4 linked regions of the Homo sapiens genome follow. The protein of the gene in region 4 purifies or fractionates together with the protein of the main gene of each other region. This does not show direct contact. Each region holds a gene or a part of one and is shown on either strand. Other genes may lie near its edges.

Region 1 (7,973 bases), on a different chromosome or scaffold from region 4:
AGAGGTTAAAGTTACAGCCTCAGCATTCACTGTAATCACACAGTACAGGTGAGTTGCCAAAAGCTTCGATCCTAACCTCTTCAGAGGAATTTACAAAGCACTCCTGCCCCACGTGGATTCCACGCCTTTGCTGTGCATGCTTCACTGAGCTGCTTGCTTCATCTTCAGCCACAGTCCTGACACCCTACCCTTGACATGATGAGCTGCAGGCTTGAGTCGAAAGAACAAGAATGTACCAATAAGGGTCAAATGACACCCCTAATCAGCTTACAAACTCCGACCAGAGAGCCTTTGTTTTGATTCTTGTGCTATCGTGTACCCGTTCCTGCTGTCCACATGGGCTCCCTCCTTTGCCACCCTTAGAGAGGGACAAGCACCCACAGGTGGAATTGCTCTTGAAGTAATCCCAACAGCTCTCAATTTGCATCAAAAGAAGTCCCTTTTGAATTCAATACCTGTTAGCCACGAAACCTATTAAGAGTCTATTCAGAGGGCCAGATTTTACCTCTTGGTTCAGTCACACCTCCATCAAGAGCCTTCTGTGTCTTTCTTGTGGGCAGGACTTAAACTTTTGTTATTCTCTTGGCATTAATACACAGCCCTTTCTTGCTTTGCTGTGGTATTTTATTAATCCAATCACATCTAACTGGCTTGTTTTATTCTTTTCCAAACACACCTTAGAGCATTTTTTGTTTTGTTTTTTGTCTTTATTTATTTCTTTTTTTGCTTTTTTCAGAGGCCCAGGAACTTGATCCTAATTTCTAAAGAGGCAGTGAAGAGCCGGGCATAGTGACTCATGCCTGTAATCCCAGCACTTTAGGAGGCCGAGGCAGGCGGATTACCAGAGGTCAGGAGTTTGAGACCAGCCTGGCCAATGTGGTGAAACCCCTTTTCTACTAAAAATACAAAATTAGCCAGGCGTGGTGGTGGGCGCCTGTAATCCCAGCTACTCAGGGGGCTGAGGCAGGAGAATTGCTTGAACCTGGGAGGTGGAGGTTGCAGTGAGCCCACTCCAGTCTGGGCAACAAAGTGAGACTCTGTCTCAAAAAAAAAAAAAAAAAAGAGGCAGTGAAGTTATTCTTATTTTCAAGTGAGAAGAGAAGGTCATAGAAATGCAAAGCAATAATTCATATATATATGAAATGTATATGTTATATAAACATATATATATATATATTTAGAGTAGGTCATCTTTTTTGTTGTTGTTGTTGTGATGGCAATATAGGTCCAGGTGATCCTTCTGCTAATATTCATTCCCCATTGTACTTTTAAGAGCTATAGACTTTTTTTTTCTTTTCTTTCTTTTTTTTTTTTTGAGACAGAGTCTTGCTCTGTTGCCCAGGCTGGAGTGCAGTGGTGTGATCTCTGCTCACTGCAACCTCCGCCTCCTGGGTTCAAGCCATTCTCCTGCCTCAGCCTCCCCAGTAGCTGGGATTCCAGGCACCCACCACCACACACAGCTAATTTTTGTGTTTTCAGTAGAGATGAAGTGTCACCATGTTGGCCAGGCTGGTCTTGAACTCCTGACCTCAGGTGATCCACCCACCTCAGCCTCCCAAAGTGCTGGGATTACAGGCTTTCTTTTTTTTCTTGATACAGGGTCTCACTCTGTTGCCCAGGCTTGAGTGCAGTGGCCCAATCACAGCTCACTGAAGCTTTGACCTGCCGGGCTCAGGGAATCCTTCCACTTTAGCCTCCCAAGTATCTGGGACTACAGGCACACACCACCACACCCAGCTAATTTTTACATTTTTAGTTTTTGTACAGATGGAGTCTCCCAGTGTTGCACAGGTTGGTCTCAAACTCCTGGCCTCAAATGATCTTCCCACCTTGGCTTCCCAAAGTGTTGGGATTACAGGCGTGAGCCACCACACCTGGCCAAGTTTTGTTTTTTAATCAGCTACACTTGAGTTATTTTTCTATTGACTGGAGGCCTTAGAGAGCAATGGCAGAAAAAGGCAGTGGGATGCCATGCCAGGGAAGGCAGGAAGGGAAGGCCAGTCTGACATTTCCTGGCCCTTGCAGCAGCAGGGGTTTTCTGGAAAGTGGGTAAGAGAAAGATGAAGCTTAGGTCTAGGTTAAAATTGTCACTTTCTCTCCAACTGGGAGAGTGTCGTTCATTGATGTTTCTTCAGCTGGGCTCAAAGAAGAGGTAGCAGGATGCATGATGAGGCATGATCCTACTTCTTTTCAGAAGTCACTGAATAACATATTTGCTAAAAGGAACATGCTTAGTCATAAATATCAGTGGAGCTGATTTCACACTACACCACCAATTCTAGAACTTCTGCACTGATGAGAAACTAGCTTGAATTGTCGTCACCCTGGGGGCAGGAAAGTGGGGGGGCGGGGGTAGGGAGGCGAGACTCCATGTCCTCTGGGTTTAAGAGGTTGGACTTTAGAGGATTACATGCTTACTGCTCATTTCACAGGCACATTTAAGGCCCGACTTAACCCCACACTTTCTATTATCGATCCTTCCCCCACCTCACTCCTTACCTACCAGGACCATATACTTAAGGCACTCTACTAGGGACAAAATTTAAAGATGTGCTAAAAAGTCTCAGTAATCAAATCATGCAAAATTTATTTTAATTGAAAATTTTTAAGTCAGTTTTTATGAGGTGACTTCTGAAAAGAAATGGGATCGTTTTCATTGTGCATCTTGCTACCTCCTCTTTGTGTTTTTTTTGTTTTTATTTTGTTTTGAAAAGATGCAGTCTTGGTGTGTCGCCCAGGCTAGAGTGCATGGAGTGCAGTGACGTGATCTCAGCTCACTGCAACCTCCACCTCCTGGATTCAACCGATTATGCTCCCTCAGCGTCCCAAGTAGCTGAGACTACAGGCATGCACCACCAAGCCCAGCTAATTTTTGTATTTTCAGTAGGGATGGAGTTTCACCATGTTGGCCAGGCTGGTCTCAAACTCCAGACCTGGAGTGATCCGCCCGCCTCGGCCTCCTAGAATGTTGGGATTACAGGTGTGAGCCACCGCCTGGCCGCTACCTCCTCTTTTTTTTTCTTTTCTTTTTTTTTTTTGAGACGGAGTCTTGCTCTGTCTCCCAGGCTGGAGTGCGGTGTGGCACCATCTCAGCTCACTGCAACCTCCGCCTCCCGGGTTCAAGCAATTCTCCTGCCTCAGCCTCCTGCGTAGCTGGGATTACAGGCACGCTCCACCACACCTGGCTAATTTTTGTATTTTTAGTAGGGACGGGGTTTCACCACGTCGGTCAGGCTGGTCTCGAACTCCTGACCTCGTGATTCGCCCGCCTCAGCCTCCCAAAATGTTGGGATTACAGGTGTGAGCCACCGCGCCCGGCCGCTACCTCCTTTTTGAGCCCAACTAAAGAAACATCAAGGATTGATACCCTCCCAGTTGAAGAGAAAGTGACAACTTTAACCCAAATCTCACCTTCCTCTTACTTTCTCTTTCCCATTTTCCAGCTGCCAAACTAAGGGCAGCTGCTGTCAGTTTTTGTAAATAAAGTTTCCAGGGCTGGGATTAGAGCGAGAGAAGAGAGGCAGGATTGTGAAAGGTCAGGAGTGGATACTCAATCAAAATTTTTTATATTTTGTTCATTACGGATTTTTTAAATTAATTTTGATTTTTAAAAATATTGCACTAAAATGTTTATGTTGATTATTGAGGTTTTTTTATTTTGTGAACCCATAAAATTTGCAACTGACAGTACCCTGTCCAGGTCCAGTAAAAATACCTAGGAGTCTACAAAAATCTACCCACGACTCACTGGACCTCAGGTACATATCCCCCCCCGCCCCCATGAAGTCTCCATAAAGTGTCCCAGTGAGTTTTAATGTTCTCTCCTGTCTTTCCATGCACGTGTATTAAGATGCATTGCCTTCTGATTAGTGTTTTCCACTTCGAACAGCGGGAATGCCTCGACCACGCCTGTCTTCAAATTTCTGCTCTAGTTAAGAAACGATCTCAGGCCGGGCACGGTGGCTCACGCCTGCAATCCCAGCACTTTGGGAGGCTGACGCGGGCGGATCACCTGAGGTCAGGAGTTCGAAAAGAGCCTGACCAACATGGTAAAACCCCGTCTCTACTAAAAATACAAAATCAGCCGGGTGTGGTGGCGTATGCCTGTAATCCCAGCTACTTGGGAGGCTGAGAAGGGAGAATCACTTGAACCTGGGAGGCAGAGGTTGCAGTGAGCCGAGATCGTCTCAAGAAAAAAAAAAAAAAGAAAAAAAAGAAACGATCTCTTCCCTTCTCAAAGTTATATACATTTCACTATTCGCCAACCACCTCCTCCACGCCGTCCAGAGCTGAGCTGACACGCAGCGAAGTCCTCTCAGTGGTCCCTCCGCACCTCAGCCCTGTGCTTGGCAGCGAGACGAGTGACAGGGCCGCCCCAGCATGGGTCTCCCGGGCCGCGGACCCGCCCCACGCCGTATCCAGCACGCTGTCCTCCCGCCCCATCTTTGTGCCGGCCATCGTGTGGTCGCGTCTGCGCGCTCCGCCCGGTCTGCCGGCGTGAGAAAGAGCTCGTGTCGTTCCCAAGTTCAGACCAGAGGGGACGGCGAAGCGCGAAAAAGTTCCCTGCGCCCAGTACGCAGGCGCAGCCGTGCTCCTGGGCTTCCCGGGCCTCGTCCCAGCTGGCGCGCCCGGCGCTCCTCCGCCAGCGGGCAGTTGGGGGCGCTGCAGGGAGGGCACCCGAGCGGGTTGGGGGCGCTCGGAAGGGTGGCTTGCAAGGTCCGGGTAGCTGCAGTCCCCGGAGTGGGGCGGAGAGGCGCGGCACCGCGCGGACGAGGATGGGGCGGGGGCGGGCGCAGCCCGAGGGTGCAGGCACGATAAGGCGGGTGACAGCCAGCGGGGAGGGGCGGGCGCCACCGCGTCCACGCCCTTTGCTCGGGGCCGGGCCGGGAGGGTCCTCGGGCTTTGCGCGCGCCTGGCCGGCGGGCTGAGGCGTACGGGTCGCACGCAGCGCCATGCGAGGCCCCCCTGCCTGGCCGCTGCGGCTGCTCGAGCCACCGAGCCCTGCCGAGCCAGGTCGGCTCCTGCCGGTAGCCTGCGTGTGGGCCGCGGCCAGCCGCGTTCCCGGGTCCCTATCGCCGTTCACTGGCCTGAGGCCGGCGCGGCTATGGGGCGCGGGGCCCGCGCTGCTCTGGGGCGTTGGAGCCGCGCGCCGCTGGAGGAGCGGCTGCCGGGGCGGGGGTCCGGGCGCCTCGCGGGGCGTCCTGGGCCTCGCGCGGCTCCTGGGGCTGTGGGCTCGCGGCCCCGGCAGCTGCAGGTGCGGGGCTTTTGCCGGGCCAGGCGCTCCTCGGCTCCCGCGCGCCCGGTTCCCGGGCGGTCCCGCAGCCGCTGCCTGGGCAGGGGACGAGGCCTGGCGGCGCGGGCCGGCGGCGCCTCCCGGGGACAAGGGGCGGCTGCGCCCCGCAGCGGCCGGACTCCCGGAGGCCCGGAAGCTCCTGGGGCTGGCGTACCCTGAGCGCCGGAGGCTGGCAGGTAGGGTCCTCCCCGGCCACTTCCCTCCGCCGGGCCTCTCCTTCTCCACACGCGGGGTCCCGGGGCGCCGAGAGGGACACGGCCGGGCCGCAGAGCGCGTGTCACCGCCGCCTCTCCTGGGCCACTCCTAACCCCGGAGGAGGGAGGGGATCGCTCACCTCAGAGTAGCGTTGTCAAGATTTCGCCTTAGCTGGGGACTCGTTTGCAGATTTTACACTTGTTTTCTTGTTGACACACGTTATATATGTCATTATTGGAATCTTTGGGTCTGTTCCACCACCAACTTAGTGGGAGCATCTGTTTTGGCTTAGGCAGCAAAATGAGCTGGAGGTTTTTCCTTGGAAAAAAAAATTCTAGCCAAAAATATGCCTATTTTGTTATTAGGCGTTTATACTTTTTTTTTTTAACCAAAAACACATTATTTGCTTCAAGCGAGTCTGTCAAGCAGTCACCAATGCTTTCACAGCGGAAAGCAAAACTTTCAGACTTGTCTCTTGTGCAGGAAGTTACAGCACTGTGTTCAACAGGCCACACCAGTGATCTGTTCAGTAATTGAGTAACTTTTTTAAAAGAAGCCAAAATGAATGTTTTTAGAAACAAAATTTAAATAGGACAGTTTTCTATAGCTCCTCATTTTTTAGCCATAATTGGAGGAGTGTTTAGATGCAAGGGCCTTGTAAGATCTAAAATTTTTTCGATTTCTCTAAATCTTCACTCCTTCTATAAACATCTGTTGAGCCCTCATTCTGGACTGGGCCCTGGGTTTACAGTGGCATGCACAAGGAAACATGGTCCTCACTTCTGCTGGGGCTTCTAGGTTAGTGGGGAGAAGCATCTATGAAATATTCGTATGTATAGAGGTAAACCTGCACCTGTGGGCTGTGGAAGGGGGCCTGTGGGGCCTGTGAGGTTGTCAGGTGCAACACCAGAAAAGCATTCTTTGCTGCAAATCCATTGCTTTAGAAAGGACCCTCCTGGGTAGTGATTTGGGATTTAGAGTAGGTTTGCACAGTGGAGGAGAGCAGTTAGGGTGGCGACTTTTCATCTACCAGTTGCTATGAAAGCTTAGGGGGCTGTTGATATCACTCGGGTGTAAAGAGAATTATTTCATTGTTCAGTTGGTTGAGTGTAGATTTTGTTGTAAAATATCTTTTTCTCTTTCCTCTTTTTAAAAACATTGGAGACTAGGAGCTCTCACTGGACTTTGAGCTGCTTGAGACGGGGACTGTGCGATTCATCTTTCTGTCTCTAGTTCTTAGCATGTGCACGGCACAGAGCAGGCGCTCAGAGTGCCTTCAGTGAAGGAATAAATGACCATACCACCAGGCACAGAGTGAGGCCTTTAGAAACCCTGAGCATCATCGGGTGCGCCCACCACTTCTGTATGTGACTCAAAGTAAGTGTAAGGAAATCCAGTTCTGTTTTGTTTCTGAAATACTAGATGTCAGGAAGGGTGTTTAGGTGTCAGGCTTTGGTGGCCTACACGTGCCCAGTCCTCTTATGCCATGACCATTGTTCCTGTGACCCCTCACTCTGTCCCCAGATATCCTGCCATGCTAGTATGTTTTGGTGACAGCCTTAAACAAGACGAGACTGCCTCCTTTTTTCTTTCTTCTTTTGTTTTTCTGGGATAGGGGTCTCACTGTGTTGCTGAGACTTGTGTTGAACTCCTCAGCTCAAGCAGCTCTGCCTCTACCTCCTGAGTAGTTGGGACTACAGGCATGTGCCACCACACCCAGCTCGTACCTTTTTTTTTTTTTTTTGAGATGGAGTTTTGCTCTTGTTGCCCAGGCTGGAGTGCAATGGCGTGATCTCACCTCACCGCAACCTCCGCCTCCCGGGTTCAAGCGATCTTCCTGCCTCAGCCTCCCAAGTAGCTGGGATTACAGGCATGTGCCATCATACCCGGCTAATTTTGTATTTTTGGAGACAGAGTTTCTCCATGTTGGTCAGGGTGGTCTCGAACTCCCGACCTCGGGTGATCTGCCCACCTTGGCCTTCCAAAGGTGCTGGGATTACAGGTGTGAGCCACTGCACCCGGCCTTCTTTTTATTTTAAGAACAGAATATATTTTGTTCCACCACATTGAGAAATTATGAATATATAATTTGAAGAAACAAGCCTAGGGTTGGCACACTATTTTTTTTTTTTTTTTTGCTTTTCAAACAGATAAATACATATTGTATGTTATGAGGATAAGGATATCTGATAAAAAGCCCTTATTTAGATGTATGATTTCCTGAGAAGTTATTATATATTAAAGCCAGTTAGGATTAAGAGGAAGTGGTGGTCATTGTTAATTTGTAATTAAAAAAAAATGTGTAATTTATCATTCTAAGAGCAGCCTGAGGTGTTGGCACATCTCTTTGAAATGCTGGAGGTAAAGAGCAATTGCGTGTGTGTATTTTCTAATCAAAACACTAAAAAAGCTGAGCTGAAAAGGAATTCCAATGTTAATTTGTTAATTTTTAGAAAAATACAAAAATCTTTTTTCAAAAATGCAG
Region 2 (7,944 bases), on a different chromosome or scaffold from region 4:
TAATTAATTATGATGTTAAGTACTATGAAAAATAAGTATAGCTAGCTACAAAGTGAGTAACAGGAACCTCAGTCTGTGGGGTTAAGAGTTTCCTGTAACAGAGCTGTTTATATACAGTGCAGCACTAACTCATATGCCCAGCCTGCCTGGGTTCAAATTCTGACTCAATCTTGAGCAGATTATTGAACCTCATTTTCCTCATGTATAAAGTGGAGCTAGGTCTGGCTTAGTGACTCACACCTATGTGAACCCAAAATATCTGAGACAGGTCTCAATCAATTTAGAAAGTTTATTTTGCCAAGGTCAAGGACATGACACAGCCTTAGGAGGTCCTGATGACACGTGCCCAAGGTGGTTGTGGCACAGCTTGGTTTTTCTTTTTTTTTTTTTTTTTGAGACAGAGTTTCGCTCTTGTTGCTCAGGCTGGAGGCAATGGCGTGATCTCGGCTCACCGCAACCTCTGCCTCCCGGGTTCAAGCAATTTTCCTCTCTCAGCCTCCTGAATAGCTGGGATTACAGGTGTATGTCACCATGCCCAGCTAATTTTTGTTTTTTTTTTTCTTTTTGAGATGGAGTTCCGTTCTTGTTGCCCAGGCTGGAGTGCAGTGGCGCAATCTCAGCTCACCACAACCTCCGCCTCCCGGGTTCAAGCGATTCTTCTCCCTTGGCCTCCTGAGTAGTTGGGATTACTGGTATACGCCACCAAGTCTGGCTAATTTTGTATTTTTAGTAGAGACGGGGTTTCTCCATGTTGGTCAGGCTGGTCTTGAACTCCCGACCTCAGGTGATCCACCTGCCTTGGCCTCCCAAAGTGCTGGGATTACAGGCATGGACCACTGCGCCAAGCCTAAGTTTTATATTTTTAGTAGAGACGGGGTTTCATCATATTGGTCAGGCTAGTCTTGAACTCCTGACCTCAGGTGATTTGCCTGCCTCAGCTTCCCAAAGTGCTGGGATTACAGGTGTGAGTCACTGTGCCCAGCCCACAGCCTTTTGTTTGTTTGTTTTTTGAGACACAGTCTCACTCTGTTGCCCAGGCTGGAGTGCAATGGTGTGATCTCAGCTCACTGCAACCTCCGCCTCCCAAGTTAAAGTGATTCTCCTGCCTCAGCCTCCTGAGTAGCTGCAGCTGGGATTATAGGCACGCACCACCATGCCCGGCTAATTTTTGTATTTTTAGAAGAGATGGGGTTTCACCATGTTGGCCAGGATGGTCTTGATCTCCTGACCTCGTGATTCGCCCGCCTCGGCCTCCCAAAGTGCTGGGATTACAGGCGTGAGCCACCGCGCCCAGTCGGAAACCTGAAAGGTTTTATAAAGAGAAATGACAAGCTTAGATTTGCAATTTTAAAAGCTCTCTCTGGTTACATACAACATGGAGAACTGGTTGGAGGGAGGACAAAACATATGGCAGGGAAACCAGTAAAGAGGCTGCTGTAGAAGTGGGGACCAGAGGCTTGCAGCTTAGCCTAGGGTGGTGGCAGAGAAGATAGAAGGAAGCTGGCTGATTGAAGAACAGCTAGAAGATAGAACCAACAAGATGCATGTGTGTGTGTGTGTGTGTGTGCGTGTGCACGCGCGTGTGTGTGTGTGTGTGTGTGTGTGTGTGTGTGTGTAGCGGGGGAAAGGGGGAAGAGGCCTAAACACTAAATAAATATCTCAGGAAAGGGCTGGGTGCAGTGGCTCAAGTCTGTAATCCCAGCACTTTGGGAGATCAAGGCAGGGGAATTGCTTGAGTCTAGGAGTTCAAGATCAGCCTGGCTAACGTGGCAAATCTCTATCTCTACTAAAAACACAAAAATTAGCTGGGCGTGGCGGCATGCGCCTGTAATCCCAGCTACTTGGGAGGCTGAGGTGAGAGGACCACTTGAGCCCAGGAGATCAAGGCTGCAGTGAGCCATGATGGGGCCACTGCACTCTAGCCTGGGCGACACAGCGAGACCCTATGAAAGAAAGAAAGAGAGAAAGAGAAAGAAAGAGAGGAAGGAAAGAAAGAAAAGGAAGGAAAGGAAGGAAGAGAAAGAAAGAAAAGTCTGAGGAATGACCTGTGTTCCTGCCACATTCTTTCATTGCATGAAATGCCTTCCCCTCTACTCCATCCTTTCAGACACAGTTCCTTCCTATTTTCTCCACAAAATTCTGATTTTGTCTCCTTTCCAAGAGAGTTCCAGAATTTTAGAGCTGAACATTCTTGAGTAGTTGACATGACTCAGAAGCTACCTGAAGATGGCTGGGCACGTTGGCTCACGCCTGTAATCCCAGCACTTTGCGAAGCTGAGGTGGGCAGATCACCTGAGTTCAGGAGTTCGAGACTAGCCTGGCCAACATGGTGAAACCGCGTCTCTACTAAGAATACAAAAATTGGACTGGGTGTGATGGCTCACACCTCTAATCCCAGCACTTTGGGAGGCCGAGGTGGGAGGATCACGAGGTCAGGAGATCAAGACCATCCTGGCTAACATGGTGAAACCCCGTTTCTACTGAAAATACAAAAAATTAGCCAGGTGTGGTGGTGGGCACCTGCAGTCCCAGCTACTCGGGAGGCTGATGCAGGAGAATGGTGTGAATCCGGGAGGCGGAAGTTGCAGTGAGCCGAGATTGCGCCACTGCACTCCAGCCTGGGCAACAGAGCGAGACTCCGTGTCAAAAAAAAAAAAAAAGAATACAAAAGTTGTCTGGGCATGGTGGCGGGCGCCTGTAAACCCAGCTACTTGGGAGGCTGAGGCAGGAGAATCACTTGAATCCGGGAGATGAAGGTTGCAGTGAGCTGAAATTGCGCCACTGCACTCCAGCCTGGGTGACAGAGTGAGACTCTGTCTCCAAAAAAAAAAAAAACAAAAAAAAAAACTACCTGAATATGAAGACCATGTCTTAGTCAACTTTTTTTTTTTTTTTTTTTTTTTTGAGACAGTCTCACTCTGTTGCCCAGGCTGGAGTGCAGTGGTGCGATCTTGGCTCACCTCAACCTCCGCCTCCTGGGTTAAAGCGATTCTCCTGCCTCAGCCTCCCGAGTAGCTGGGATTACAGGCGCCCACCACCACATCCGGCTAATTTTTGTATTCTTAGTAGAGATGAGGTTTCACCATGTTGTCCAGGCTGGTCTCGAACTCCTGACCTCGGGTAATCAGCCCGCTTCGGCCTCCCAAAGTGCTGGGATTACAGGCATGAGCCACGGCGCCCAGCCGTCTTAGTCAACTTTCTATCCCGTCCACCCCATCTACCCAACACTTGTGAAGATCCAGGGCCATCTTTTAAAACTTTTCCTCTGACTGCACGAGTGGTACAGTCATTAATAACCTGTGCTAATATAAAGCTCTGTGACCCATAAAGCATTATACAGATGTGGGAGCTTTCACAGCTGTATTCTCTTTGGATCCTCAAAGATTTCTTATAAAGTAGGTACTATTATAAGGGAAATAAACTCAGAGCTAAAGTGACATATCCAAGGTAACATTCACTAAAACAAACGTCAATGCCAAGATTGAACCTATATCCAGGGAACCCACATGGGATGCTCTACCACCTTCCATGAAGAATAAATATTCATATATATCCAAGAGGACTGTTAATTCTTGGAGGCAGTTAAGTACCACTTCTGGGAATCCTTCTTAGTTTCAAGTATGAATCTATTCAAACATGTTTACTGAACACCTACTATGTGCTAAGTAAGGCACCTAGTGTTGGAGGTGCAGCAATGAACAAGGCAGAGAAGATGCTTACCCTCATTCTAGTTCAGGGAGCTGTCAAACAAGGACACAAATACATAAACACTGTAAGTGACAGATGCTACAAAGAAAATACAAGGCCGGGTGCAGTGGCTCACGCCTGTAATCCCAGCACTTTGGGAGGCCAAGGCTGGCGGATCACTTGAGGCCAGGAGTTGAAGACCAGCCTGACCAACATAGTGAGATCCCGTCTCTACTAAAAATACAAAAATTAGCCGGGCGTGGTGGCGGACGCCTGTAATCCCAGATACTCGGGAGGCTGAGGCAGGAGAATCGCTTGAACCCGGGAGGCGGAGGCTGCAGTGAGCCAAGATCGCGCCACTGCACTCCAGCCGGGGCGACAGAGCAAAACTGTCACAAAAACAAAACAACAAAACAAAACAAAACAGAGTAACATGAGAATAAGTGTGAAGTGTGTCCTTTTCGCCGGCACTGCTTCAGATAGGGTGGTCACAGAAATCCTCTCAGAATAGTAACATTTAAGTTGAGACAGAGCTTGGTCTTCGGTAGGTGCTTAACGAAAACCATTTTCCCACAAACTTAGTTCTGGAAACGACAAAGAGAGGAAAAAGTGTACTCAGTCCGCACAGGGGCCGCTCCCAGGCCTCCAACCTTCGCCGCCAGACTGACTGGAAAGTGGACAGTTCCCGGCCTATCCACGCCGGCACCATTAGAGGGCGCCGCGGGTCCTCCTAGCCCCAGGCACTGGCAAACTGACATCTGCTACCTAACAGTCGAGGCTCCGACGCCCCGAGTCCAGGCAGAGGGCAAGGGCGGCGCTGGGAAGCCCTGAGGCCCTAAGGAATCGCGGAGGGTCACTGGGCGCCTCAAGGACAGGGTGCCCTCCGCGTCGCAAACCCACACCAGTGGCATAAGAACTCGCTCCCTCTGGGACACCCTGTTTCCGGCGCCTTTAAACCTGGAAGTACTGCTGTGTCCAATCCTGGCCCTCCTTCCGCACTTAGTCTTTGAGTCCTTCCCTCTCCTGGCTTGTGCTGGAGCCAAGCAGGCTATGGCTACCAATCAGCGCTCAGAAAAGACGCATGCGTCTTCGAACGAACGCGACGTACGGTTAACTTTGACCCAAAGACAACCTCTTCTCTCCCGCTTCTCTCGCTGTGAAGATGGCGCTCTCCAGGGTGTGCTGGGCTCGGTCGGCTGTGTGGGGCTCGGCAGTCACCCCTGGACATTTTGTCACCCGGAGGCTGCAACTTGGTCGCTCTGGCCTGGCTTGGGGGGCCCCTCGGTGAGGGACCTGTAGCGAGAAAAGCATTTTTGACGTCCAGGCTCTTTCAGTGTCTCAACCTTGCTTGCATTCTGTCTCTTAATTCTCAGAGTTCCACGCCTTGGCCCTGGAATTTTTATTCTTCTGTTCAGGATTCAAACTCCGATCCCCACTAGTGACCCGGCTTCCTGACCCTCTGTACTCTCAGTGCCCCATATTGTCTGGTTTCCCCGCGTGTCCTGAGCTCATCTTTCAGCCTCACTTTTTCGGCTCAGGTTTTACCGCTGCTATCTCGATTCCACCTCTTTCTGACTTAGCCTGCAGTTCAAATTGTCCCACAGGCATTGCGCTCTCTCCAGAGGCATACCCTGAGTTACTTTCCTGCCTGGCCTTTGCCTGATTTGTGTTTCACAGTCTGATTGCCTATCTCTTCTTGACCCCAAGACCTTCCTTGGATTTCAGAAGTGTCAAGCCTTGGGATACAATCTCCGAGACTCCTGCTTTACATTAGGGACTCAAGGCGTGAGGGAGCTTCTAGGACTGATTCCCAGATAGTCTCTTTGATCTTCCTTGTAGGTCTTCAAAGCTTCACCTTTCTCCAAAGGCAGATGTGAAGAACTTGATGTCTTATGTGGTAACCAAGACAAAAGCGATTAATGGGAAATACCATCGTTTCTTGGGTCGTCATTTCCCCCGCTTCTATGTCCTGTACACAATCTTCATGAAAGGTAAAAACGAAACTACAATAGAAATTCCGGAATCAGCTCTTGGGCAGGGTCAAAGAGTTAGCATAAATAAGATCATTTGCAGGTTCTGCTATGGGGATGTGAGCCGAGATATCTTATATTTCATAAATGCCTGCGCCTTAAACTAATTCCTATAAATTAGCACTTCTTGAGAATGTTTCTAGAAAGATGTTATGAGAAACAACTTATGACAGCAACATGAGGGAGGGAGAATATAGGTATGTTCTCGTACTTTCTTAACCACACACCTGGCTATAGTAGAAATTTTTTGCCTTGCACACGGCAGGGATCTGTGGCTGTATAGACCTGCCCTGTGATGTATCAGTTGACTTACCCATAGGAAAATGAGGTCTAACCCTTGTTATGAATCTATATTAGGTAGTATGTTGTAGTGGCAATAGCCCTACATAATACTTGGTTTCTAAATGTTTTGTTTCAAATCAGAGATCCTTAGTTACTAGGAGAAGATATGTATCGTGTCAAGTGTCTACTCTGGAGCCAGATTGCCTGATTCAAATCCCAGTTCGTCACTGTGCGATTGGACTAATTAATTAACCCCTCTTTCCTTGGTTTTCTTATGTGTAAAATGGGAGTAATGGAACCTACCTATTTATCACATGATTGTGAAGACTTTAAAAATTGATACATGTAAAGTACCTAGAACAGGTCCTGATCCCTAGTAAGTGCCAAGTAAATGTTAACTTATTTTCATCTAAATGTTACCTAACAGTATTATAAGTTGGTGCAAAAGTAATTGCGGCTTTTGGCTTTCAGTGGCAAAAACCACAATTGCTTTTGCACCAAATCTATAATATGCTCTATGCTTTTATCATAACACTATAATAAACTACATTGTCAAATCTGAACATTATCATAATTATTACTAGCTTCATGGACTTGAAAAATTACTTATCCTTAATTTGTAGAGATAAAATTGGCTGCTTTTTCTGTTTTCATGTAGATAAATAGGATCAAATGAGAGAAAGGGATGAAAGCATTTGTGTTTGTTTTTAAACTTTTTATTATGAATTTTTTTTTTTTTTGAGTCTCACCGTGTCGCCCAGGCTGGAGTGCAATGGCATGATCTCGGTTCACTGCAACCTCTGCTTCCCGGATTCAAGCAATTCTCCTGCCTTAGCCTCCCAAGTAGCTGGGAATACAGGCGCCTGCCACCACACCAGGCTAATTTTTTTATTTTTAGTAGAGGTGGGGTTTCACCATATTGGCCAGGCTGGTCTCTAACTCCTGACCTCGTGATCCGCCTGCCTCGGCTTCCCAAAGTGCTGGGATTACAGGCTTGAGCCACCGCGCCCGGCCAACTATTATGGAAATTTTTAAACACACACAGATGTAGAGAGAGTAGTGTAACAAACTTCCATGTATTAACCTCACTTCATTATCATAACTCATGGCTGCCAATCCTATTTATATACTTGCCTTATGTATTATTTTGAAGACAATCGAGACATCATATAATGACATGTAAATCATTGATAAATATGAAAGCATTAAAGAAATAGATGCAAGAAGCCGGGCGCGGTGGCTCATGCCTGTAACCCCAGCACTTTGGGAGGCCGGGGCGGGCGGATCATCTGAGGTCGGGCGTTTGAGACCAGCCTGACCAACATAGAGAAGCACCGTCTCTACTAAAAATACAAAATCAGCCAGGTATAGTGGCACATGCCTGTAATCCCAGCTACTAGGGAGGCTGAGGCAGGAGAATCTCTTGAACCTGGGAGACGGAGGTTGTGGTGAGCCAAGATCGCACCATTGCACTCCAGCCTGGGCAACAACAGTGAAACTCCCATCTCAAAAAAAAAAAGAAAAGAAAAAAATTAGATGCAAGAATTTTCATAAAATGAAAATTTAAAATGTAATCATAAAAATATATTGAACTAAACTACTTTAAAAAGTGTTCCAGGCTGGGCACGGTGGCTCACGCCTGTAATCCTAGCACTTTGGGAGGCCAAGGCGGGCGGATCATGAGGTCAGGAGTTTGAGACCAGCCTGGCCAACATGGTGAAACCCAGTCTCTATTAAAAATACAAAAATTAGCCAGGTGTGGTGATGGGCACCTATAATCCCAGCTACTCGGAAGGCTGAGGCAGGAGAATTGCTTGAACTCAGGAGGTGGACGTTGCAGTGAGCCGAGATTGCGCCACTGCACTCCAGCCTGGGCGACAGAGCAAAACTCCATCTCAAAAACAAAAATAAGTGTTCCAGGCCGGGCGCAGTGACTCATGCCTGT
Region 3 (7,271 bases), on a different chromosome or scaffold from region 4:
GATCACTGAGCCCAGGAGTTTGAGACCAGCTTGAGCAACATAGTGAGACCCCATCTCTACAAAAATAGAAAAAATTAGCTGGGCGTGGTGGCACACACCTGTAGTCCCAGCTACTTGGGAAGCTGAAGTGGGAGGATCACTTGAGCCCAGGAAGTTGGGGAAGCTGAGGTGGGAGGATCACTTGAGCCCAGGAGTTGAGGCTGGGATCACACCACTAGGCAGCTATTTCAGCCTGGGTGACAGAGTGAGTGTGTCAGCCTGAGCAACAGAGTGAGACCCTGTCTCAAGAAAAAAAAAAAAGGAAAGAAAAGAAATGCAGTGGTGGAGCCCAGGTATTGATATTTTAAAAAGTGTCAGGCTGGGCACGGTGGCTCATGCCTGTAATCCCAGCACTTTGGGAGGCCGAGGCGGGCGGATCACAAGGTCAGGAGATCAAGACCATCCTGGCTAATGGGGGAACTTCGTCTCTACTAAAACTACAAAAAATTAGCCAGGTGTGGTGGCAGGTGCCTGTAGTCCCAGCTACTCGGGAGGCTGAGGCAGGAGAATGGCATGAACCTGGGAGGCGGAGCTTGCAGTGAACCTAGATCACGCCACTGCACTCCAGCCTGGGCAACAGAGAGAGACTCCATCTCAAAAAAAAAAAAAAAAAAAAAGTGTCCCAGGTGATGCTGATGCCCCTTGAGTGTTGAGGACCACTGGAACAGAAGGACCCAGATGTTAGAAAATGTTATCCCTTTCCTTTGGAGTAGGATGAGGGGGATGTAATTTATCCTTTTTTCTTTTTTTTTTTTAATCAGAGTCTCGCTCTGTCGCCCAGGCTGGAGTGCAGTGGTGTCATCTTGGCTCACTGCAAGCTCCGCCTCATGGGTTCAAGCTTTTCTCCTGTCTCAGCCTCTTGAGTAGCTGGGACTACAGGCATGTGCCACCATGCCTGGCTGCTTTTGTATTTTTAGTAGAGATGGAGTTTCACCACGTTGGCCAGGCTGGTCTCAAATTCCTGACTTCAGGCCATCTACCTGCCTTGGCCTCCCAAAGTGCTGGGATTACAGGCATGAGCCACTGCACCCGACCAATTTATACTCTACTGTGTGTAGTTTCCTATTTTTTCCTTAGCAAAAGCCATTTGGAAAAGTCCCTGCCACCCCCTCTTGTATTTGTACTTTTATATTTTAAAAACAAGGTTAGCTGGGCACGGTGGCTCATGCCTATATTCCCAGCACTTTGGGAGAACGAGGCAGACGGATCACCTGAGGTTGGGAGTTCCAGACCAGCCTGACCAACATGGAGAAACCCCGTCTCTACTAAAAATACAAAATTAGCTGGCCGTGGTGGTGCATGCCTGTAATCCCAGCTACTCGGGAAGCTGAGGCAGGAGAATCGCTTTAACCCGGGAGGCAGAGGTTGTAGTGAGCTGAGATCACACCATTGCACTCCAGCCTGGAAAACAAGAGCGAAACTCCGTCTCAAAAAAAAAAAAAAAAAAATCATTGAGGCTGGGTGCACTGGCTCATACCTGTAATCCCAGTACTTTGAGGGGCCCAGATGGGAGGATCACTTGAGGTCAGGAATTTGAGGCCAACCTAGGCAATAGTGAGACCCTGTCTGTACAAAAATTGTTTTAAAAAATTAGCTGGGCATGGTGGCCCATGTCTGTAGTCCCAGCTACTTGAGAGGTTGAGGGCAGGAGGATTATTTGAGCCCAAGAGTTTGAGGCTTCAGTGAGCCACAATTGCGTGACTGACTCCACCCTGGGCGACAGAGACCCTGTCTCTAAAATAAATAAACAAAAATTTTAAAAAGTTTAAGAGTCAAAAAAGAGACTCTTGTGATCAAGAGTCTCTTGAGTATATTCAGTGCTTGCTGATATCAGCTGATAATTGAAAGAAAAACGTGGTTTCCCCTTTCATCCTGAGAGGCCAGAAGCTGGTAAGACATGAGCACAGGTCAGAATTTCCACCCGTGGGAATTCTGGGGGTGCTTTATTTTAGATGATTCGGCTAGATTGCTTCTTTATCCCCTGGCAGGCCCCCATACTAGTAGCTAGCTGTTAAGAAAAAAGAAGCCTTTTGGTGACCCACCTGAAAAGACCATAGGGTGAGGATCAGTTCTCCCATGTTCTCACTGGTGAGAATTGGGTTTTGCAGGTGAATCCTTGGTGGTATCCTCTTCCTTACCCGTCCCTTGTCTTTTTTGCCCACCATCCCCTTTCCTCCTCTGTTGCTAGACACCCCTGGTGTAAAAGGCTCTCTGTGCTCAAAGGCTGTTTGTTGCAGTGCAGCCACGCTCACTCTGATAAGGTTCTGTTTTATCTGGCTTGGGAAAAGCCATTTGGAAAAGTCTACTTTCCTTGTTCCTAGAGACCAGTGCTTGCATCCAGGCAGACCTGGCTTTGAATTGAAGCCCATTAACAAAATTTATGGCATCTTTCTTCTAAGCTGTATTTTTGTGCACTCTGTAGCTCTCACACAGAGGCACTGTTTTTCCTAACATGAGGTGTACAATGCAGCAGTTGCACAGATACGGTCCCTAAAGTGAGAAATGAATGTTCGAAAGAAGGTGCTCTCGTTTGGCATGGAGTGAATGCCTTGTTTCCACCTCAAATCCTAAGATGGAACACATTTTTCCTGGTGACTTCAGGCAGATGGCACACCTCCCACTTCCGTTGTGTGTCATGAAGGAGGAGACACTTCTATAGCCAGGGCTGTGCCTGAATAATGATGTACATGGGGGGGAGTTCACATTCACCTCCAGAATGGGTTTCCTGCTTTGCTTGAGAAATGCTTTAATTGGGTGTCATTAGTAATCCTGTCAAGGGTAAAAAAAACCTCCCTTGTTAGGAATCAAAGCAAAAAGCTCTCTCTGAGGAGTAATGAGGAATATACTCTTTCTAATATGATGCGGAAGCACTTAATATTTGTTATTGGTGTTTACAGAAATGATTACTTCTCAAACATTGCTGCTTACAGAAATGATTAATTCTCAAACTATGCCGGGAAGGTGAGTATGGTAATGATTTTACAAGGGAGGAATCTGAAGTGTAAGAGGAATCATGTCTTGCCCCAGGTCTCGAGCTAATCTGTGGCAGGTTTCGGGGCGGTGCCTGCTCCTCCGAGCCTGTCCTGGGAACTGGCCACACTGCCCTGGGTTCACAGCACCATGGGCTCTGTGCGTGCCGTTCACATACTCTTCTCCCTTGACAGCTTTGCACGTCAAGGAGAAGCTACCAGCCCACGCTTCTTGGCAAGACTCCTTTCCTCTTGGTTGTAAGGATGATACGGTCTGCTTCGGAGATGATAAAACTAGTATTGATGTTTATTTATTTGCTTTTACTTGGCAGATTCTCAGCGCTGATTTTGAGATGATGGGCTTGGGAAACGGGCGTCGCAGCATGAAGTCGCCGCCCCTCGTGCTGGCCGCCCTGGTGGCCTGCATCATCGTCTTGGGCTTCAACTACTGGATTGCGAGCTCCCGGAGCGTGGACCTCCAGGTGTTTTGTTTTCTTTATTGTTATGTTTATTTTATGTTTATGTTTTGTTTATTTTGTTATGATGGGGTCCCAGGGGTTTGTTGTTTATTGCCAGCCAGGGCGTTTTGTGCAGGGCACACGCTTGTAAGGTGAGTTTAGGGCTCTGCACACCCCCACAGCCCTGGGCCAGACCCCAAGCAGCTTTGGGTGGGAGAGGTCCCCTCTGTGGTTGTGTAGGATTGCGGTTGTGGTATCCCTCCCTGCCTTTCCTGTGAGTTAACAGCATTCATTTGAGCTACTGGGGTGGTTCTGGGAAGACAGCTTGCTTACATACACTGGCCATAGTCCGTTGTTTGCGGTCCTCCGGCGCCCAAGATATCGAAGAGTAGTATTGGAAGTGTGCTTGGATGATGGGTGTAAGAAATATGTTTTTAAAGGTACCAATCTTTATCTTCATTACTTAATGATAATAATAATTTTAACTTCCTCATTTACCGGTGCAGTCATGGGTCAGGTGCAGTGCTGAGCAGTGACAAAGATGCTCCTCTTGATTGAACTTGAGTCGGGCCCTTCTGAGCCGTCTTCTTGACTAGGCCTTGATCTTGGCACCTCCCAACTCTCACTGCCTGTCTTTGGCCTGCCCAGCCCAGTCCTAGCAAAGGATCCCGCTAAGCCATCCTTCTACCCCTGATCCTTGACCAAGTTCCTCATCCCTACCCTTGCTGTCTAAGTCCTTGGCCTGTGTTTAGCAAGAATCTTGTTAGGCCAGTTTAGCAAGAATCCCCCTACTCTGGGGGCGATTTCCATCCACTGACTCCCCGCACTGTGCTCGTTGGCTATAAATCCCTAGCTGTCTTTGATGTGTTCGGCATTGAGCACAATTTCCCTCTCCTATTGCAATCGTTTTGAATAGTCTTTCTTACCATTTTAATGAATGTCAGAATAATTTCTCTTTCACAGTACTTTATACAAATTATCTCCTTTTGTGCACAAACCCTACAAGGCTGGGACTTGACTTTCCTCATTTCACAGGGGGTCAGACTGAGGCACCAAGAGGTTGAGGTGGAGCAGGGATTCCAACCTGCATGGGCTTAGCCGTGGCACCCCAGCACGTCTGTGCTCTGTCCTGTTCTCACACTTACCCTCCTGGGCTTGTACTCCCTGTGTCTCAGCTTCCACGGGAGTTCCTGTTCTCTGGGCAGATGAGGTCTGCTTGTCTGGAGTTGGAGAACTGAATCTGTTTTCAGAAATTGTATCTGCTAAAGAGTTGTTAAGTGCTTTGTTAGCAGCGAAGAAGAACTAAATATTTGAGCATCATCTTATGCCAGGTAAAGCATGAGGCATTCTGTGCACTTAGCACATTTAAGCCTCACAAAAACCCAGTGGGAAGTGTGGTGTGAGTGCACAGAGCCTTCCTTCACTTACACTGACAGAGACCATTTTTTCCAGAAGAAACCGCTCCAGCTTCTGTCCAGTTGACTTAAAACACAGCCTTGGGCACTTGTGTGTATAAGACTGGTGCTGGCCCTGGGCCCCAAGGTGGTCTTTGTGGAGGGCGCTCAGGTGGTCCAGGCTCCTCAGGTAACTTGGCATCAGCCCTAATGCCACGGTCTCCTTGTAGACACGGATCATGGAGCTGGAAGGCAGGGTCCGCAGGGCGGCTGCAGAGAGAGGCGCCGTGGAGCTGAAGAAGAACGAGTTCCAGGGAGAGCTGGAGAAGCAGCGGGAGCAGCTTGACAAAATCCAGTCCAGCCACAACTTCCAGCTGGAGAGCGTCAACAAGCTGTACCAGGACGAAAAGGCAAGGCCTGCTTTGTTTCCTCTCAGTTCTTTTCTAAGGGATGGTGTCTACATTGTCTGTTTCTTCTTGGCGGGAGGATGAGCAAGCGGCTGGGTTTAGATTTATGTAATTATGTGGAAAGAGCCTATTGATCAAGCTTTGGGCATTCTCTCCCTTTCCCCTCCAAGTCCCTGGCTGGGCTTGCGGTGAAGCCTTTTGCAGTGGTAATAAACAGGAGAAATGCAGAAGAACAATTTCAGATTCATCCTCCTATTGGCTTTTTTTTTTCTCCTATTGGGTTTTTTCTTCCCACTTTCCACAAACATGTATTAAATACCTACTCTGTGCCAGGCCTATGCCAGGTGCTTATATCTCAGAGAAAAATAATATTTGTGCCCTCCAAGTATCTAATGGAGGAGAGGAGAGGCAGACTCTACTAAATACTAACAGAGAAAGTAGGGGACTGCACCCTTGCTTTTAAGCTAGGAAAAAAACCAACAAATCCTGCGTAGATTTAAAGGGGCCTTCCTGCTAATTAAAATATCTAAGCTTTATGTGTCTTTTTTTTTTTTTTTGAGATGGAGTTTGGCTCTGTCGCCCAGGCTGGAGTGCAATGGTGCAATCTTGGCTCACTCTGCCTCCCGGGTTCAAGCGATTCTCCTGCCTCAGCCTCCTGAGTAGCTGCGATTACAGGTGCCTGCCACCACGCCCAGCTAATTTTTATATTTTTAGTAGAGATGGGGTTTTCACCATTTTGGCCAGGATGGTTTCGATCTCTTGACCTCGTGATCCACCTGCCTCAGCCTCCCAGAGTGCTAGGATTACAGGCATGAGCCACCGTGCCCGGCCTGGTTTTCTTATGTAGGAATATATGACTATACTTTCTTTATTAAATTGTGTAACTGTGTGAGTTACTAATATCTCCTGTCCCAGAGTGCATCAAACTTTGGCCTCTATTATTAACTAGAAAAATTTGGCTTTTTTTTTTTTTTTTTTTTTTTTTTTTTTTTTGAGATGGGGTTTCCCTCTTGTTGTCCAGGCTGGAGTGCAATGGCGCCCTCTTGGCTCACTGCAACCTCTGCTTCCCGGGTTCAAGCAATTCTCCTGCCTCAGCCTCCCAAGTAGCTGGGACTACAGGCATGTGCCACCACGCCCAGCTAATTTTTTGTATTTTTTAGTAGTGATGGGATTTCGCCATGTTGGTCAGGTTGGTCTCGAACTCCTGACCTCAGGTGATGTACCCGTCTTGGCCTCCCAAAGTGCTGAGATTACAGGCATGAGCCACCGCACCTGGCCTGAAAAATTTGGCTTTTATAATGCGTGTACCTCTCTCTCTGGAGTGGCTAATTTATTGGAAGAATGTTGTAGCTCAACTTCCATTATCTTGAATTGTCTCAGAAAATGAATTATTTCCAGGAAGGGACTCAGACTTTTCTCGCATAACTGATTTAAAATTCAAGAAGTACTTTTTTTGTTGTTTAATTTGCAGAGTACTTTCCTATATTTGCAAGCTCATATTTCTTCTCTGGGAATTGTGCATAATGTTGTTGTAATAAAGTGCTTCTTTATGTTTCTTCCCTTTTCTTACTGGTGAGATATGCTTTTTGTGCTCCTGAAATCCCCTTTAACCTCATCTCTCAAAAAGAAAAAGAAAAAAAAGAGCATCAAGTAGTTATTTGAAAAGAGAATCTGTTTCCACAGTTTTTCTCTTTTAGAATATGCGATATAAATGTCTTTTCATTTTGGTGAGCAAGGGTGGGTTCTCACATCAAACCTTAGCTGCAGGAGGATTTTAGCTGTGGTTTGGTGGTAGGAGGCATGGAACTTGTGAGTCAGGCAGACCCGGGTTTAAAGTTCCCTCAGCTGTGTGATTTTAGGCAAGTCACTTAAATTCTCTGGATCTGTTTTCTCAACTGTCAAGTGGAAATGAGAAAGGAATCTCACAGGGTGCCTGTGAGGATTGAATGAGATAATATTTATAAAGCGTTTAACCCAGTGCTCAACCTAGAATGAAAGCTCAGC
Region 4 (8,147 bases):
CTCGTGGGGGGGCTTGGGCTGCCGGAGCTCGCTGGGTGCCAGCTGCAGGGACACACCGTGGCTGTGGCCCCCGTGGCTATGGCTGCTGTGGCCGCAGGGCCCGTCCTCCAGGTCCTGTGAGGGTAGGTGCTCAGTGTCCACCAGGCCCCCAGCACACCCACCCGCCGGGTACCTTCCCAAGAAGCCTGACCTCCGGGTCCCTGGGCAGCAGGAGATTGAAGAGGTTCTCAAACAGGAAGAAGGCGTAGAGCCCGGCCAGCATAGCCAGGAGGCGCCAGGTGGGCTGTGGGCTGAGGCCCTCTTCGCTGTGTGTATGCAGCCCCAGCACCTGGGGAGTAGGGGCGCTGGGCTGGGGGGGAGGTCCCAGGGCGCCTCCCACCAAGACCCAGGGAGAGGGGTCAGGAGGTGGGGTGGGTAAGGTCCCTGGGAGGGCACGGCCTGGGAGTCCATGGTGGGGAACGGAGGGCCAGGGTCGCGGGTTTGTGGGGGCAGACCTTGGGCGTCAGATGCAGGACAGCGTCCCCAGTGACTGCACCCACTGCCAGGCTCAGGAAGGTCTGCAGGATGTAGTGGGTGACCCCCCTGCAGCCAGTGCAGGTCAGCAGCAGGAGGCCAAAGACCGCGCAGAGGCAGATGAGCAGCGTGGCCAGGGAGCCGTACAGATACCCTGGGGGCGGGTGAGGCGGCTGTGAGAGCTTTTCTTCCAGACTCAGCCCCTGCTTCCCGGGCGCTGCTCACCAGAGCTGCAGGCCGTCAGTGTGGGCCAGGCCCTCACTCAGGCTGACCCTCCTGCCTCAAAGCCCCACTCTCCTGGCGACGCCACCTTCCCCTGTGTCTGTTGTTTCTACTTCCAGCCCCTGCTCACTCTCTCCATCCCTCATCCTGGGCAGCCACTCCTTCCTTCCTACACGGGCTCCACCTCTGTGCTGCCAGCACAATGTCGGCGTGGGCACTCACTCTCTGACTGGCTGAGCTGGTCCTGGACGGGGGGCCTGGACTGGGAGGTGCAGGCTCCACTCAGCTGCTGTTGGAGCAGGGCAGGGCTCAGTTGGGCCCAGGCCTCCGGGGTCACCCCAGCCTGTTCCGACAGTCCATATGCAGCCATCACGTCCCTGGCACTCAGGCATACCTGGGGGGTGGCAGGACAGGCTCAGGGGCCCAAGCAGACCCCGGTGAGGCCCCATCTTACCCCAGGGCGCAGCTCACCGTGTCCCACACACTGGAGCTGTTGCTGGAGCTGATGAGGGGCACAGGGTCCCGGCTGCTGGCTCCCCTGTGCCGATGACTGTGGTCACTGTGGGCCTCCCTGCCCACCCCCAGGCGCTGCATCAAGGCTGACAGCTCTGGCAGGGAGAAGAGTTGGCACCGCGAGTCTGTGTGGGCTCCGGCCCTGCCCCCCAGGGACGTGGAGGCTGGGGACTCGGGGGTGCCCCCCTCCACAGCCCAGCCCAGGCCTCACCGGCCAGCGTCATAGGGACCTCGCTGCTGTGCTGCTGGAACACAAAGTCCACGAAGTACTGAGGGCTCGGCAAGGCGTGGAAGCAAGACCCGCTCCTGACATGGTCCAGCAGGGCAGCCAGGACGCCGCCAGCACTGCCCGGAGCCCCCGCCCCCACCGCCTCCTCCAGCAGCTGAGGGATATCTACGCAGGCCTGGGGAAGAGGGGGCCTCCGCCTCAGCCTTTGGTGTGACCTTCTGCCATCCACCCCGCTGCCCCTGGATGCATCTCCCACCCCAACTACAGGATCTGCCCCCACCAGCCCCGCCCCTCCCTGGAGCCACAGCCCTCCCTGCCGGGCCCAGCTGCTTCAGGCTCCCACTCAGGCCTCTGGGTTCCTCCCTCATGAGGTCCCTCCCGGGGCTCCTACAGGCTCCCAACTGCCCAGTAGTGAGCCCCACGTTGTGAATCCCCAGCCGCAGGCCGACTCCTGGGCGTCTCCCCAGGCCCCCAGGCTCCCCGAAGGCTTTGCAGCCAGGCCGGGTCCCATGGGCCGTGGGACCCTCCTCACCCACTCCCCTGGTCTGCCTGGACTCTCCCTCACCATCTTGGGGGTCTGGCCGGCAGCCCGGGCCTGCATCCTCTGCAGCAGCCAGCTCAGGCCCGGGGTCAGGGCCTTGGGGCTCTCGAGCAGGGCCAGGAGGTGGTCTGCATGAGAGGCCCAGAGGCCAGCCCGAGCGTCCTCACAGGTGCCCTCGGGGTTGCTGAGGTACAGGACGGCGGCGGCACTGAGGCGGGCGACGTACCTGGCCTCCAGGACCGGGCCCGGGGGCAGCCCTGACCCCTCAGGCTCGCCCAGGCCCAGGGCGTCCTCCACAGACAGGCACTGTGGGCAGAGACAAGTGAGCAGGGGCGCTGGGCCCACCAGGGAGGGGAGAGGCAGGCCTGGCCAGGGGCTTCCCCGAGGGCCTGTTTCCCTTTCAAGTCCAACAACGTCCACCATCCTCTCTCAACCCCTGGCGCCCTTCCGTCTCCCCAGGCCCCTGTCCTGCTTCCCCAACTACAGGGGTGCACGCAGAGGGGTCCCCAACAGTGGTCCCCCATCCCCAGGGGACTCCCCTGGAGCCACTGCCAATTTGATGGCAGAGGGCCGGCAGGGGGAGTTGGCCCTGGGGTCCTGGGGAGAAGAGGGACTGTGTCCCTGGAAAGGCCTGTCTGCCCTCATGAGCAGGAGGGTGGGCTCTGGCCTGTGGGGAGGGTCAGGGTGCCCAGGTACTGCCACTAGCCTCCTCCGCCTCCTGGAGTTTGCCCAGGGCCCTTTGCTGCCGGCTGGCAGGGCGGAGCTGGCGGGAAGAGGCCAGGGCTGGGGGACCCGTCGGGTGGGGCTGTTACCTTTCCACACGGCCCGTTGGCGCAGTGCACACGGTCCGCCAGCGTATTTAACAGGCCGCCCAGAGCCTCTTGATCCAGAGCGCCCTGGCCAGAGGTGAGCAGGCTCAGCAGACCAGCAGGCGGGGACGCCGTCGCCGTCACCACCAGCACAGCCAGAAGCAGCCCCAGCTCCAGCGAGACCAGGGACGCCATACTCAGCTCCCAGCGTGCTCAGTGGGTGTTGCTGTGGCCAAGGCCCAGTGCTTCTGGGCTGGCTGAGGGCGGCTTTGCTGGGGTTGTCCAGGGCCAGACTGGGGCTGGGCTAGGACCCGCCCGGGCTGCATGAGGACCTCTCCCAGGTATTCCTGCAGAGCTCTGTGATTGGCTGCTGGAGATGCCTGGGTTAACCATTCCAGTGGCAGATCCTCCCCAACAGCCTGGAGCCACTGCCTGTGGGGGTCGAGGGCTGGGCCCCTTCCCCTGGACAGGCAGCCTCGGTGGTCTTTTTTTTTTCGAGTTGGAGTTTTGCTCTTGCTGCCCAGGCTGGAGTGCAATGGCGTGATCTTGGCTCACGGCAACCTCCGCCTCCCGGGTTCAAGTGCTTCTCCTGCCTCAGCCTCCCGAGTAGCTGGGATTACAGGCAGCGCCACCACGCCCGGTTACTTTTGTATTTTTAGTAGAGACAGTGTTTCTCCATGTTGGTCAGGCTGGTCTTGAACTCCCAACCTCAGGTGATTCGCCCGCCTTGGCCTCCCAAAGTGCTGGGATTACCGGCGTGGCTCACCACGCCAGGCCAGCCTGGGTGGGCTTCTGTCCTCTGCCTGCTGCCCCCCAAGCTGTGGGGCAGGGCTGGGGTGTCCCCTTCTGGCTGTCCATCTGGGGGCTGCCTCCAAGCTGGGGGACACAGGGCAGAGGTGCACAGATGCCCCCAGAGCCTGAGAGCTCCCAGGTCCCTGCCTCTGCCCCTCCCAACAGAGGCTGCCCAGACACCCTCGGTGGCCCCTGTTGGGGGTGGGGACATGGACCTCCCTCCTCCTGGGTCCTGGGCTGTGGTCCCTGTTGGGGACTGCGATGGAGTCAAAGAAACTGAAAAGGTGCCTGCTGCATCATGCTCCCTTAGGCCGGAGACAGCCCCAGGAAGCTCCAACACAGACAAACAGGAAGACGGAGCTGGGCCCTGGCAGCCACCTGGCCGAGCTTGGGTCAGGATAAGATTGGGGCAAGACCCCAGCTCTAGCCCCGGGGGCAGGGAGGCTGTGGCTCCCAGCCCTGCCCTCTCTGTGGGCTCCCTCTCTGGCCTTTGAGCCTAGAGGCCTTATCTCTACCGTGGTGGTGATGGCAGGAAGTCTGGGGGAAGGGGAAGGCAGATCTCAGGGCAGCTTTGCCTTCTGAAGGGGGAGTCCAGATGCCACCTCCCGCCCGGTCCAGCCAGCCTGACCCTGAGCATTGTGGGTGGGGCTGGGGTGGGGAGCTGGGTGCCTGAGGCCCAAGGACTCTGTCCCGCCATACACAGGGTGGGACGGGGCAGGGCGGGCATTGAGCCCAGTGTCCTGGGGTCAGGGTGCTTCCCCTGCCGGCCTCACCCCACCAAGCGGATCTCATGGTGCTCCTCTGGCTGGGCCCACCCGCAGTGGTATCCTTCTGGGGGCCCTTAGGGGAGCCTGCCGGGGGTGCAGATCCTGCCGGGGGTGCAGAGCCTGCTGGGGGTGCAGATGATTTCTGGGTCCCAGGACCATGAGGGGGCTGCTCTACACACAGCCTGAAGATGCTGCGGACCCAAACTGGCCCTTTCCCTCCCACACCACCCCAGGACCAATGGGCTGGCTGGAGGCCACCCATGCTAAAATAGGCTCAAGGGCCTACTTTAGCTTCTGGGCAAAGGTCTTGGCCTGGGCCTGACTCTGTGGCCTTCCTGAGCTGCCTCCCCAGTAGGCCTCAGTGCTGGGCTACAGGCCTCCTCCATTCCCTCCATTCATGTGACCCCACCCCTCCCAGCAGAAACTCTCTTCCGTAGCCCAGGAGCAGCTGTTGAGGGTTTCACCTGCCCATGCCCCAGCCTAAGGCCGGCTTCCCCAGAGCAGACGGGTTGCACTCTCCTGCCCCTCAGGCCCACTCTGTCATCCAACAAGCTCACTGCAACTGGCCCATCTTAAAAACAACACCGGCTGGTCACGCTGGCTCACACCTGTAATCCCAGCGCTGTGGGAGGCCGGGGCGGGGGGATCACTTAAAGTCAGGAGTTTAAGACCAGCCTGGGCAACATGGTGAAACCCGAGCTCCACTAAAAACACAAAAACAAATTAAGGCACCCTGAGTGGTGGTGGGTGCCTGTAGTCCCAGCGACTCGGGAGGCTGAGGCAGAATTGCTTGAGCCCAGGAGGTGGAGGCTGCAGTGAGCCACGATCGCATCACGCACTCCAGCCCGGGCAACCTGGCAAGACCCTGACTCTAAAAAGAAAAAAACAACAACAAAAAAAAGCCCACGTTCAATGGCAGCACTATTCAAAAGATGGAAGCAACTCAAGTATCCAAACGCGCATGAGTGAACACATCGTGGTTCATCCACAGTGGAACACGATTCAGCCAGAAAAAGGAAGGAAACCGGCCTGCACCGTGACTTGGATGCACCTGGAGGAGACTGTGATGAACGAAAGCAGCCAGACGCAAAAGGGCAAGGACGGTGTGATCTGACTGATGTGAGGACCCCAGCCAGTCAAATTCATGGAGACAGAAAGTAAAAGGGTTTTGGGAGGCCGAGGCGGGCAGATCACCTAAGGTCAGGACTTCGAGACCAGCCTAGCCAACATGGTGAAACCCCATCTCTACTAAAAAATACAAAAATTAGCCAGGCATGGTGGCGGGGTCCCAGCTGCTCAGAAGTCTGAGGCGGGAGAATTGCTTGAACCCCGGAGGCAGAGGTTACAGTGAGCTGAGATCACGCCATTGCACTCTAGCCTAGGCGACAGAGCTAGACTCTGTCTCAAAAATAGTAATAACAAAAAATTTTAAAATAAATAAAAAAAATACAGGCCGGGCACAGTGGCTCATACCTCTAATCCCAGTACTTTGGGAGGCCAAGGCGGGCGGATCACCTGAGGTTGGGAGTATAAGACCAGCCTGGCCAACATGGTGAAAACCTGTCTACTAAAAGGTACAAAACTTAGCTGGGCATAGTGGCAGGAGCCTGTAATCCCAGCTACTCAGGAGGCGAAGGCGGGAGAACTGCTTGAACCCGGAAGGCAGAGGTTGCAGTGAGCCGAGATCGCACCATAGCATTCCAGCCTGGGCAACAGAACGAGACTCTGTCTAAAAAAAAAAACAAAAAATTAAATAAGTTAAAAAAAATACATGCCTGGCACCCAGTGGCTCATGCCTGTAATCCTAGTACTTTGTAGGGCCAAGGCAGGCGGATCACCTGAGGTCGGGAGTTCCAGACCAGCCTGACCAACATGGAGAAACCCCATCTTTACTAAAAATACAAAATTAGCCAGCAGGGCGTGGTGGCTTATGCCTGTAATCCCAGCACTTTGGGAGGCTGAGGCGGGCGGATCACGAGGTCAGGAGATCGAGACCATCCTGGCTAACACGGTGAAACCCCGTCTCTACTAAAAATAAAAATAATTAGCCGGGTGTGGTGGCGGGCGCCTGTAGTCCCAGCTACTCGGGAGGCTGAGGCAGGAGAATGGCGTGAACCCGGGAGGCGAAGCTTGCAGTGAGCCGAGATTGCACCACTGCACTCCAGCCTGGCCAACATAGCAAGACTCCGTCTCAAAAAAAAAAAAAAAATACAAAATTAGCCGGGCGTGGTGGCACATGCCTGTAATCCCAGCTACTCAGGAGGCTGAGGCAGGCGACTCTTGAACCTGGGAGGCGGAGCTTGCAGTGAGCCGAGATTGCACCACTGCACTCCAGCCTGGGCGACAGAACGAGACTCCATCTCAAAAAAAAAAAAAAAAAATACAAAATTAGCCAGGCATGGTGGCACATGCCTGTAATCCCACCTATTCAGGAGGCTGAGGCAGGCGACTCTTGAACCTGGCAGGTGGAGGTTGCAGTGAGCCGAGATCACGCCATTGCACTCCAGCCTGGACAACAAGAGCGAAACTCCGACTCAAACAAACAACAAAATACAAAACTTAAGCCAGGCTGGCGGCATACCCCTGTAGTCCCAGCTATTCGGGAGGCTGAGGCAGGAGAATCACTTGAACCTGGGAGGTTGAGGCTGCAGTGAGCTGAGATCATGCCACTGCACTCCAGCCTGGGCGACAGAGCCAAACTCTCTCTCAAAAAAAAAAAAGAGAAAGAAAAGAAAGAAGGGTGACTGCCAGGGCTGGGAAGGGGAGAATGTGTGTGAGTGTTTAATGGGGATGGAGCTTTACTTTGTTTGGATGGAAAAGTTCTGGAGGTAGACGGTGGTGAGGTTGTACAATAATGTAAATACACTTAATGCCCCTGAACTGTGTACTTAAAATCAGTTAAAATGGCAAAATTTGCTATATTTTATCACAGTAAAAAAAATAAAATAGGCCGGGCACGGTGGTTCACGCCTGTAATCCCAGCATTTTGGGAGGCTGAGGCGGGCGAATCACCTGAGGTCAGGATTTGAGACTAGCGTGGCTAACATGGTGGAACCCCGTGTTTACTAAAGATACAAAAACTAGCCGGCTGGGCGCGGTGGCTCACGCCTGTAATCCCAGTACTTTGGGAGGCGGAGGCCGGCAGATCACGAGGTCAGGAGATCCAGACCATCCTGGCTAACATGGTGAAACCCTGTCTCTACTGAAAATACAAAAAATTAGCTGGGCGTGGTGGCGGGTGCCTGTAGTCCCAGCTACTTGGGAGGCTGAGGCAGGAGAATGGCATGAACCCGGGAGGCAGGGCTTGCAGTGAGCAGGGATGGTGCCACTGCACTCCAGCCTGGGTGGCAGAGAGAGACTCTGTCTCAAAAAAAAAAAAAAAAAAATTGGCTGGGCATGGTGTCTCCCGCCTGTAGTCCCAGCTACTCAGGAGGCTGAGGCAAGAGAATTGCTTGAACCCAGGAGGCGGAGATTGCAGTGAGCCGAGATCATGCCATTGCACTCTAGCCTGGGCGAAAGAGGGAGACTCCATCTCAAATAAAAAATTTAAAATTAAAATTAAAAAAAAAAAAAAAAAAAACAGGCCGTGTGCGGTGGTTCACACCTGTAATCCCAATACTTTGGGACGCCAAGGCGGCAGATCACCTGAGGTCAGGAGTTGGAGACCAGCCTGACCAACATGGAGAAACCCTGTTTTTACTAAAAATACACAATTAGCTGGGCATGGTGGCAACACATGTAATCCCAGCTACTCAGGAAGG

What was found.
Region 1: the proteins of SLC39A4 (region 4) and ABCB10 purify together in Homo sapiens (affinity purification with mass spectrometry; 5 studies listed by BioGRID and IntAct, with this or other methods). This does not show direct contact.
Region 2: the proteins of SLC39A4 (region 4) and LETMD1 purify together in Homo sapiens (affinity purification with mass spectrometry; 5 studies listed by BioGRID and IntAct, with this or other methods). This does not show direct contact.
Region 3: the proteins of SLC39A4 (region 4) and GOLM1 purify together in Homo sapiens (affinity purification with mass spectrometry; 5 studies listed by BioGRID and IntAct, with this or other methods). This does not show direct contact.

The regions. Positions count from the first base shown.
Region 1 is NC_000001.11:229,555,632-229,563,604, reverse strand, and holds the start of ABCB10 (ATP-binding cassette sub-family B member 10, mitochondrial), read left to right. Parts: upstream 1-4,897; 5' UTR 4,898-4,952; coding exon 4,953-5,469; intron 5,470-5,542; exon of another isoform or gene 5,543-6,865; intron 6,866-7,973.
Region 2 is NC_000012.12:51,043,508-51,051,451, forward strand, and holds the start of LETMD1 (LETM1 domain-containing protein 1), read left to right. Parts: upstream 1-4,819; 5' UTR 4,820-4,849; coding exon 4,850-4,971; exon of another isoform or gene 4,972-5,505; coding exon of another isoform or gene 5,506-5,526; coding exon 5,527-5,678; intron 5,679-7,944. UniProt on the Homo sapiens protein: Plays an essential role for mitochondrial structure and function, as well as thermogenesis of brown adipocytes.
Region 3 is NC_000009.12:86,075,411-86,082,681, reverse strand, and holds part of GOLM1 (Golgi membrane protein 1), read left to right. Parts: intron 1-3,340; 5' UTR 3,341-3,361; coding exon 3,362-3,490; intron 3,491-5,090; coding exon 5,091-5,270; intron 5,271-7,271.
Region 4 is NC_000008.11:144,413,768-144,421,914, forward strand, and holds the start of SLC39A4 (zinc transporter ZIP4 isoform 2 precursor), read right to left. Parts: upstream 3,078-8,147; 5' UTR 3,023-3,077; coding exon 2,831-3,022; exon of another isoform or gene 2,442-2,830; coding exon of another isoform or gene 2,325-2,441; coding exon 2,043-2,324; exon of another isoform or gene 1,653-2,042; coding exon 1,460-1,652; exon of another isoform or gene 1,344-1,459; coding exon 1,207-1,343; exon of another isoform or gene 1,130-1,206; coding exon 958-1,129; exon of another isoform or gene 855-957; intron 668-854; coding exon 495-667; intron 329-494; coding exon 191-328; exon of another isoform or gene 189-190; intron 115-188; coding exon 1-114. UniProt on the Homo sapiens protein: Selective transporter that mediates the uptake of Zn(2+). Plays an essential role for dietary zinc uptake from small intestine. The Zn(2+) uniporter activity is regulated by zinc availability.